Regions from separate parts of the Homo sapiens genome. Here region 1 is linked to region 2. Evidence: fine-mapped expression QTL. A gene starts in region 2. The other region holds a variant in brackets. All regions are shown on one strand. Distances are from middle to middle. Region 1 overlaps TMEM255B (transmembrane protein 255B). Region 2 holds the start of TFDP1 (transcription factor Dp-1).

What was found. PIP is the estimated chance that this variant, and not a neighbour inherited with it, causes the effect.
Region 1: its variant is the best candidate, but not a certain one, in a credible set for the expression of TFDP1 in whole blood (INTERVAL, PIP 0.52).

The regions. Positions count from the first base shown.
Region 1 is chr13:113,767,405-113,772,777 of GRCh38, reverse strand. It overlaps TMEM255B (transmembrane protein 255B), which reads right to left. Exons shown (of 9, transcript NM_182614.4): 3 at 3,618-3,680. Among named protein-coding and RNA genes, the nearest start is that of TMEM255B, 11 kb to the right of the region's middle. The variant G/T (reference allele first, on the strand shown) is at 2,578.
Region 2 is chr13:113,582,674-113,588,046 of GRCh38, reverse strand. TFDP1 (transcription factor Dp-1) reads right to left here and starts at 3,294. Exons shown (of 12, transcript NM_007111.5): 1 at 3,159-3,294; 2 at 2,198-2,273. The coding sequence starts at 2,209. RefSeq lists enhancers at 922-1,522, 3,500-4,471, 4,472-5,373 and silencers at 2,462-2,831, 3,202-3,531.

The sequences.
Region 1 (5,373 bases), 180 kb before region 2:
CAAGCAAAGACATATAGATTAAAAGAATAGAATTAAAAGTCCACAAATAAACCATATATGTATGGCCAATTAATTTTCAACAAGGGTGCCAAGACCATTCAATGAGAAAAGAACAGTCTTTTCAGCAAATGGTGCTTGGACAACTGGATGTCCGTAAATGCATGAACATGGGTCCCTACCTCACACCATGAAGAAAGTTAACTCAAGGTGGATCACAGAACCAGATGGAAGAGTTAAAACTATAATAACTCCTACCTCATACCATACGCAAAAGTTAACTCAAAGTGGATCACAGACCCAGATGGAAGAGTTAAAACTACAAAACTCTTCTAGAAAAATCTAGGGGTAAATCTTCATGTCCTTAGATTTGTAAAACATTCTTAGATATGACACCAAAAGCATGAACAACAAAAGAAAAAATAAATTAGAGTTCATCAAAATTAAAAACTTTTGTGCCTCAAAGGACACCATTAAGAAAGTGAAACGGCAATGTACAGAATGTGAGGAAATATTTGCAAATCACATATCTGAGAAGCGATTTGTATCTAGAATACATAAATGACTCTGATGACTCAACAGGAAAAGGCAGCCCAATGTAAAAATGAGCAAAGGAAATGAACAGACATTTCTCCAAGAACATATGCAAACGGCCAATAGGCACATGAAGAGATGCTCGACATCACTAATCATCAGGGAAATGCAATCAAAACCACAATGAGATACCACTTATCACACATTAGATGGCTAGAATCAAACAGTCAGTGACAAGTGCTGGTGAGGGAGTGGAGAAACAGGAGCCCTCATGCCTGTCTGTGGGAATGTAACATGGGGCAGCCACTTTGGAAAACAGTCTGGCAGTTCCTCAAATGATTAAACAGCATTACTGTATGACCCAGCAATTCCACTCCTAGGTACATGCCCAAAAGAAATGTAAATGCATTTTCACACAGAAACCTATGTACAAATGTTCACAGCAGCATTATTCACAACAGCCAAAGTCTGTAAACAGCTGTAATGTCCATCAACTGGTGTATGGATAAGTGTGGCCCATCCATACAGTGGATTATTATTATTATTATCATTGTTATTATTATTATTTGAGACAGAGTCTTGCTCAGTCACCCAGGCTGGAGTGCAATGGCTCAATCTCGGCTCACCGCAACCTCTGCCTCCCAGGTTCAAGTGATTCTCCTGCCTCAGCCTCCTGAGTAGCTGGGATTATAGGCATGTGCCACCATGCCCAGCTAATTTTGTATTTTTAGTACAGACAGGATTTCACCATGTTGGTCAGGCTGGTCTTGAACTCCTGAACTCGTGATCCGCCCACCTTGGCCTCCCAAAGTGCTAGGATTACAGGCATGAGCCACCGTGTCCGGCCCATATAGTGGATTATTATTCAGCCATAGAAAGCAAGGAAATTTGGAGGAAGCTTAAAGACACCATGCGCAGTGCCAGACACCAGACACAGAGACCGCACATAACACGTTACTGCCTCCACACACAAGCCCAGAGTAGGAATCTACAGAGAACACATATCACACATTACTCCCTCCGCAGGCAGGCCCAGAGTAGGAATCTACAGAGACAGGAAGTTGATTCCTGGTTGCTTAGGCTGGGTAGGTAGGGTGCTAAGAGAAGGGTGTGGGTTTCTTGCTGATGTGATTCATGTTTTAACACTGGCTGTGCTGATGGTTCACATATCTGGGAATACACTAAAAACCATTGAATTGTGTGCTTTAAATGGGTGAGTTATATGGAATGTGGACTATATCTCATTAAAGCCATTTTTTTAAAAGGAAAGAAAAACAGACCCACACTGTCCACCCATCCTGTGCATCGCCAAAGCCCAGCTTCACACCCAGCTTCTGCCTCTTTGGGGAAATCTTATGGAAAAGTCTTCAGGAGGCCTTCCCTCCTCAGGCCCACCCAACTCCCTACAGGCACCAAGCAGCTCCAGACTCTGAAGAGATGCTGTCTAGAGACCATCATGGGGGCATGCTGGCTCCCAAAGGTGGCGTCTGTTTCCAACACCATTCTGTGACTGGTGTGTGTGAGGCCTTTGCCCACCCTGGTCAGCTGTGACGCCCACCCTCGGGAGCCAACAACAGGGGGTGGGTGGGAGAGGAAATGCCGGGCCTATCTCTCCGTCTCTTTGCAACTGCTAGCCAAGAACGGCAGCTCACCCTGCAGTGCACACTGTCTCTACTATGCAGAACAGAACGCTTTGCTCCACCAGAATCCCAGTGTCTTTGCAGCCACCCCCAACCCTCCAGGGACCTCCCACCCTCACACGGTCAGGCTCCATCTGCCCAAGGGTCAGTCTCCTGGGCAGCAGTGGGAGTTTGCTGGGTCCCATGCGGGGTGATATGGTTTGGCTGTGTCCTCACCCAAATCTCATCTTGGATCCTCATGTGTTGTGGGAGGGACCTGGTGGAAGGCAGTTGAATCATGGGGGGCAGATCTTTCCTGTGCTGTTCTCATGATAGTGAGTAAGTCTCACAAGATCTGATGGTTATTACAAGGGGGAGTTTCCCTGCACAGGCTCTGTCTTTGCCTGCTGCCATCCACGTAAGACAG[G/T]ACTTGCTCCTCCTTACCTTCCGCCGTGATCGTGAGGCTTCCCCAGCCACGTGGAACTGTGAGTTCAATTAAACCTCTTTCTTTTGTAAACTGCCCAGTCTTGGGTACGTCTTTATCAGCAGTGTGAAAACAGACTAACATACAGGGTTCCGAGGGCATACACCGCGGCCCAGCCATCTCACCCTCCCTCTCGGCCTGGGAACTGGGAACAGGCAGGGGTTGGGGGCCCGACACAGGTCATTTGCACGCTGGATGATACAGTAACATGACAGCCGGTGCAGGGAAGAGCTGAGAACTCCAGCCTGCTCTGAAGCAACAACTGGGAGATGAGGCAGAAATGGCCCAACCACCTCCCCTCTAAACCCTGCTCTTAAAATTCAATCCTGGCTGCCACCGTGAACTGACAAAATTAGCCAGTTTTTGTTTTTAAAGTTATAGTCCCCAAAACAGTGCATCAACAAAACAGACTTCCAGCTGAACCTGATCGCTGTTGCCGCGCATACAGCCACGAACATCATGGACAGGCAGTGTCTGGATTTCACTCTGCATTGCTGCCATGTGAACCGGGGGCTCCCTCCTGGTTTTATGTCTTTACCTCTCCTCTTAGTCTGGGCAAGATAAACATTAACCAAACTCAGACGAAAAACAAGACTCTAGAGCCACTGGTTCAAAAGGAAGAGAGGCTTATGCACATGTTTTTGCCTGAACTTTACACACTAGGACTTAATTTAATTTGCCACCCCCGTCCCAAACTTCATGCATTCTCTGAGCTTCCCAGGCCTCAGCATTGGTGGTTGCACACCACGTGAGGTTGATACACCAGCAACCCAGGGCCATGCTCGCTTAGACTAAGGTGTGAATGGTACTCGCTGAACCCTGTATCCAGGACTGTGCAGGCCACAGCCCGGGAACCTCAGAGCTGGTCCTGTAGACACCAGTGTGCTGGGGAGGCAGGGCTGACTCTTCTCAGAGCCCCAGTGCAGCTGTACCATCCCCTGATGAGGGACTCATGCTCCCCACCACCCCATGTACTTTCTTACCATTTGCCTTCTATTCTCCACCAAGTTGATGCCAATAATTCCTAAGAAAGATCCAAAGCCGAGCTAAAACCAAAGGAAGAACGAGAGAGAAACACTCATTAACGTGCCTAGAAGCTTAACACTGACATTTAAAGCAAATAATCCCGCCCTCAAAGGCATTTTATCCAGGGACGAAGGCCAGACATCCCTACCTCAAGAACCTCAACCACTGAGCAGCAGGTGCGTCTGCTGGCGTTGGGCAGGCATCTCTGCAACATCACCTGTCCTGTCTTCTCTGCTCAGAGGTTTTTAATGATGCATCTGTTTGGCTTGTGACTCTGGGGTAAGAGAAGTTCCCACTCCTCCCCCAGAGACAACATCTTTTCGGGAACCCAGGGCCACCAAGCACCACCATCTGTCCCGTCTTCTCCAGGCCTGAGATGCCCCTGAGCATGGCTCCTGGGTAAGGTATTAGGGAACTACAGCCGTGTTTCAAAAGAAGGGTTGCCAGGCACAAGGGCCACCAGTGACCCCTGCTCAGACGGCCTAACTCTGGTTGCTGCTTCGGGAGAGTGAGCAGGGCAGACCGTTAGCAGGGAGGTGCCAGGTGTGGGGAAAGGGCACCTGAGCCAGGCACAGAGGGGGCACCTGGGCCAGGCACAGAGGGGGCCCCGGGCTGCAGCACAGGCCACCAGGGGTCCGGCAGAGCCCCCTTACTCCACAGGAAGCCCCAGCTCTGGGCAGAAAATGATACTGGGATGTCGGGAAATAGACATGGGACTGTGCTGTCTTAGAACAGAGGCCACCGGCCGGGCATCCGCACCCTCCACCCAGGGCCCGTCCTGGCAGGTGACGCCCACCTGGCAGAGGAATTTTTAAAATCAGTGTGAAGAACATGCATTTCAGCAACACCCACCGAAAATCTGGCTCAGAGCAGCCAACATGGACCTGCCAACGACCGTGCCGAGGCCTAAGACGGCTCTTGCTCCCACGCAGGTGCGCCGGGCCGGTCGCACTTCCCAGTGAGTGTCTGTTGGAAGGGGTGGCCCGCCCGGCACAGCCTTGGAGTTGCTGGGGCCGTGGTGTCAAGTTTAATGCACTGGAAACCGGACTTCTTTATGTAAATAGTTTTGCCTTTTCTGTAATTGTCTGTGTGTCTGTGGTGATAGACACGTACACATGTGGCTTTCACCAACGGTTTGAGAATTCTCCAGGGATAACAGGAATATTTCTTCATGTGCTGAGCTTCAAAATACTGCAGTTCAACTCCACACGTCAAAAATATCAAAATTTCACTTCGATATACATGTATTAAAATACATCTGTTACACTACGTTTTATTTTTTGGGGATTTGAAAAAAACCACACCTTTCTTGAAAATGTGGAGATGTTTTCACGTTCTGGCCGCTTCTTCTGAGATCAGCTTCTTAAGTCTCTACATTGGCAGAAAGTCTCCACAGAAGTGACTCTTAGCCACGTTTCCTTGAAGCTGCTTTTATTTGTTGTCTCCCTAGTTTGCTTTCAGAACTGTCTGTACTACAGGCCATTTCAATCTGGTCAGCACAGCATTAATTCATTGCCCAGAAGGTAGATTCTTTACAGAGCATAGCTTGGGCATTAGCCATTGATGTTTTTCATTATGTTATTCTGAGGCAGCTCTTAAATAAGCTTGAGGACAAACCAAAAAAAACAACCACTCAAGGCTGATCTTGATGTTTCGCAAATCACTTGGAGGTCCCTCCTCACAGCCACTTGCCCTCTGGGCTCCCCTTTCTGC
Region 2 (5,373 bases):
GAAACCCCGTGTCTACTAACAAAAAATTAGCTGGGTGTGGTGGCGCGCCTGTAATCCCAGCTATTTGGGAGGCTGAGGAGAAGAACTGCTTGAACCCAGGAGGCCAAGGTCACAGTGAGCTGAGGTCGCGCCATTGCACTCTAGCCTGGGCAACAAGCAAAACTCCGTCTCAAAAAACAAAAACAAAACACCTAACTGGTTATCGATGTTCCCTTCTGCAAAAGCTGCCAACATCATCTTTTCAAAACTCAAATGTCACACCTCTACTTAAAAGAGTTAGCTAGGCCGGGCGCGGTGGCTCACGCCTGTAAGGCGGGTGGATTGTTGAGGTCAGGAGCTCGAGCCCAGCCTGGGCAACATGGTGAAACCCCATCTCTACTAAAAATACAAAAAAATTTGCCAGGCATGGTGGCACATGCCTGTAATCCTAGCTTCTCGGGAGGCTGAGGCGAGAGGATTGCTTAAACCCAGGAGACAGAGGTTGCAGTGAGCCAAGATCGCGTCACTGCACTCCAGCTTGGGAGACAGAGTGAGACTCTGTCTCAAAAAAAAAAAAAAAAAAAAGAGCTAGCGAAAACATCAAATTCCTTGACTTGTTCACAACCTCACTTTCCATCCAGACCCAGCACTCCTGACCACTCCCAGGCTTTGAGCAGGGAAGGCCTCACCAGCTGCAGAATCCTACTCTCCTCCCAGCGCCAACCCCCAACTCAGATCACAACCCCTGAGTGCAAGGTGAGCCCCCAGCCCCTGTGCCTATGCAGTTCCTGACAAATGCTGCGTCTCAGGTGCCCACACTGGATGGAGCATTCAGGGTCCTGCAGAGCCGGACCACCTTTCCACACGCCCCCCACCCCCAGCCTCACACTACATGCTGCTCACAGACAGTGCCAGTGAAATCACGGGGGAATGAAAGAGGGCCCCGAAAACACCATCCATTATGTATCAAAGCGTGTTTGAGAACCATCTGAGGAAACCACACAGGAAACCACACAACACCAGAAGCGTGCTCTAACCGAGGCCCTGGGTCCAGCTCCTCACCATGAGGAGATGTAATGAACATGGCTTGCGCGCTGAGCACATGCCCACATCTGGCATTCTGAGTGCATGCCCGCACGAGGTCAGGGCATGGTACGGACAAGCACAGTGGAGAGGATAAAAGTAGTCTCGCAGCACAGCCAGATATGACTTCAAAAACTCACACTGGGTCCACCTGGGTGCTCACACACCCTCTCTAAAGGGGACCCCAGTGCTTGAAGGCAGGGATGCCGTGTGACATGCCTGGTCGCAGGTCAGGGAGGGCAGACACCCCAAAAGGCCTCGCAGGGACCACTGAAACCTCTGCGCCAACGGAGAGGGCTCCACACTCTGGACGCATTTTCGCTACAGATGTATCTCAGGCAGAGGCAGCATGTGCGGACTCTTTCCAACTCTGTGCGGTAAGTAGGTAAACACATCAACAGCACCTTTCACTCAGTTACAAAACGATGCACGGTGGGAAACACTAAAGAATCCAGCTGGTGTTTCAGTGACTGACATAACCAAGCACGGTAAAGAACCGCACACCAATAAAATAGACTAAATTTCTGGCTTTAAAAAATTTTCAAAATATTCTATAGTTTCATGACAACTGCAAAGCAGGCTAAGTAGCATTTTTTACCAGATTTCATAAATCAGGAAATCTCATCCTTCTGAGAAAAAAAGTGGCCAAAACAAGTCCTTAGCTCTTGGTCCACCCAAGTGGAATTAACTTCCTCTGTAGGAAGACAGGTGCCAGCAGGTGGCTACAGCCTGAGCCCTGAGCCTGGCCCCCGTCCAGCGTCTCATGTGGAAGCCCCCCAAGAAATGCAGGATTCGCTGCGGTGCTGCAACACCCTCCACCTCAATTTAATTAAGGCGTTTATTTAAAATTATCAATTAACACAGTCGGTAAAGATAAGGAAAAAGTCAGAAGGCACCACCCCATCACCACCCAACTGCAGTGTGGTATCCAAGGCCACAACTTGTGGGTGGTGACCGCAGCTTCAGAGATCAGATCCTTCCATCTTTCACCTTCATCCCGCTTCAGACGCTTTAAAAGTCTGAAAATAAACACTACTGTAGCTTATGTGTTGTCATTCTGAAATAAAGGCAGAGAACTACAAAGAATTTAGTGCGAGGCAAACATTCGTGTGCAGCATGAAGCAAACATACTTACATCTTTTGCCATGTTACCAGATCCGGGAAATCAATGCTACAAATGTTCACCTTCCCAGAGAAGAAAAATGATTTTTCTGGTAAAAAAAAAAAAAAAAGTAAGGAAAAACAAGAAATAAGTAAGAATGAAAAACGAAGTTTAAAAAATAACACATCTCAAAGGAAACGCGGACCTTCCTTCCCAAAGGCACCCTCCATCCTGAGAGCGGAGCTGGCCAAACCGACTCCCACACTCAGGATTTTCAGTCGCCTCGCCAGACGGAAATGCCCCCTGCGGAAAAGTGGCCCGCGGGCCCGCAGGGTCACCACCACTACCCCCAGGTCCCCGACGGCCCGCCCAGCGGCCGAGGGTGGGGCCGAGCCCCAGGAGCCAGGGCGCAGCGCCTCCCTCCCGCCGCTGCAGGGGGGTGCCCCACCACCCACCTGGGCACAGCCCCGGGGTCCCGGCGCAACGTGCAGGCTCGCGGCGTCCACCCCAGACCCCGGCGGCGCCCGCCCGGCTGACCGGTAACTCTGACAGGTGGGCTTCCGGGGTCCGCGCCGCGCGCCTGTCACTAGGCCTCGGGCCGCCTCCGCACGAGGCGCCTCCCGCGCGCGCCGGAACCGGGTCCCCGCGGGCCGCCGTGGGGCGGCCTCCCCTCCCCCGCCCTGCGCGCTCCGGCCGACCCTGGCCCCAGCCCCGGCCCCGGCCCCGGCCCCACCTCCAGCGTGGGGCGCGGACGCTGCTGTCGGCCGGGAGGGCCGGGCCCGGGACCCCCGCCCCGCGGTCACCTGGGGAGCCCCTACCAGCGCCGAGCGCGCGGGGTCCCCGAGGCACAGGAGCGCGCAGGGCGCGGGAGGGCGCGGGTCGGGGCCGCGCGGCGCCTACACGCGGCCGGGGCAAGGGATGGGGTGGCCGGGGGTCCCGCCCGCACCCCCGGCTCCCGCCCGCGGCTCCCGCGGCATCCCCTGCCCACCCGCACCTGGCTGCCCGGTCCGGCCGCGCGGGCGGGGACGCGGAGAGGGCGCGGTGCGGAGCGCGGGGCGGCGCGGAGAGGCGCGGGCTGGGGCCGGGCCGGGCGGTCCCGGCCGTGGCGGGGTCCCTGCCCTGGGCCGAGTGGCGCCGGGACGCGGGGCTCACCCTGGCCGAGCGTCGGGCCGGCGTGACGTGCGCGCGGCGCGGTGACGTGGGCGGCGGCGGGCCCGCTCCGCGCAGCGCGCCTGCGCGCCTTTTCGCGCCTTCGGCGCCCTCCTCCTCCTCTTCTGCTGCTCCTCGGTCTCCCGCTCCTCCCGCCAGTGCTGCGCGCCCTGGGAGAGCGGGGAGGGGCTGTGCGCGCGTGTCCGTGTGTGCGCGTGCGCGTGCGGAGATGTAGCTGGGGCCTGCGCCGGGACGGGCAGTGCGCGCGCGCGGCGTGCGCTCGGCGGCCAAGGGACTGTGTTTGTGCGCGCCTCTGACTGTGTGTGTCCGGAGAGAGAGGTGGCCGGCTGTGTGCAAGAGTGTGTGTGCACATGGGGGAGCGGGGCCGGCTATGTGCACGAGTGTGTGTGCATGTGGGGGAGCGGGAGCTGGTGTGTGCACGTGGGGGAGCGGGGCCGGCTGTGTGCAAGAGTGTGTGTGCACGTGGGGGAGCAGGGACTAGTGTGTGCACTAGTGCATGTGCACGTGAGGGAGCGGGGACTGGTGTGTGCACTAGTGTGTGTGCATGTGAGGGAGCGGGGACTGGTGTGTGCACTCGTGTGTGTGCATGTGAGGGAGCGGGGACTGGTGTGTGCACTCGTGTGTGTGCATGTGAGGGAGCGGGGACTGGTGTGTGCACTCGTGTGTGTGCATGTGAGGGAGCGGGGACTGGTGTGTGCACTCGTGTGTGTGCATGTGAGGGAGCGGGGACTGGTGTGTGCACTCGTGTGTGTGCATGTGAGGGAGCGGGGACTGGTGTGTGCACTAGTGTGTGCATGTGAGGGAGCGGGGACTGGTGTGTGCACTAGTGTGTGCATGTGAGGGAGCGGGGACTGGTGTGTGCACTAGTGTGTGCATGTGAGGGAGCGGGGACTGGTGTGTGCACTCGTGTGTGTGCATGTGAGGGAGCGGGGACTGGTGTGTGCACTAGTGTGTGTGCATGTGAGGGAGCGGGGACTGGTGTGTGCACTAGTGTGTGTGCATGTGAGGGAGCGGGGACTGGTGTGTGCACTAGTGTGTGTGCACATGGGGCAGCAGGTAGGGGGCCGGGTATGTCAGGATGTGTGTTTGTGTGCAGGGAGCAGAGAGTGCCGGCTGTGTGCGCGAGTGTGGGGGGGGGAGCAGGGACTAGTGTGTGCAGGAGTGTGTGTGCACTTGGAAGAGCGGGGCCGGGTGTGTGCTTGAGTGTGTGTGCTCAAAGAGGAGAGCCAGCTGTGTGTGCGCCTGTATGCACGGAGGAGAGGGGGCCGCTTGTGTGCACGAGTGTGTGTGCACATAAAGGGCCGACTGTGTGTGGGGCTGTGCATGTATGGAGAGCAGGTGTGTGCATAGACGTGTGTATGTGGACACACGGAGGAGAGCAGGTGTGTGTGCGTGCGTGGCACAGAGGCCTCTGCCTCTGCTGGACCCGGTGGCCTCCAAGCCCACGACGGGCCTCCGCCCAGATTCCCAACAATTCTGGGCGTCCTCGGTGCCCACCGGACGCAGCCTGGCCCGGGACTCGGGAGGGAAAGCAGGGACAGGAAAACTCCAGAAACAGTTTCATTGCATGGTGAGCCTGGTGGTCCCGGAGTCTTGGAGACTTAATCCACCCTGGAGGGCCCCGCCGCTAGGGCCAGGCCCGAGCACCCCAGCCAAGGGCGGGCTAGGCCAGAGAAGAGTCCGAAGTTCAGGGCCACAGCAGGCGGCAGAGGCTGGTGCGCGCCGAGGGTAAGGAACATCTACAGAGGACTTGAGGAGCTGACCAAAGGCCTCTCTGCCTGTGCGGTGTATTATTACATGACAGCCCACTTTGCACGTTTTATGCTGATTTTGGCCACTCCTGCCCCTCAGGCAACGCCGCACCCCCTAAAGCTCTGGTCACTTGGCTTAAACTGCTTACAAGTTAGCACCCGTTTCTTCTTTGAAGACTACCAGAAACGCTCACTTTCTGCGAGCTGGTTCACACAAATAGATACTTAGAGAACACTGATGTTCCTCAAATGGCCCTATCTTCCTAGGTCCGTTCCTTCTGTTTCACA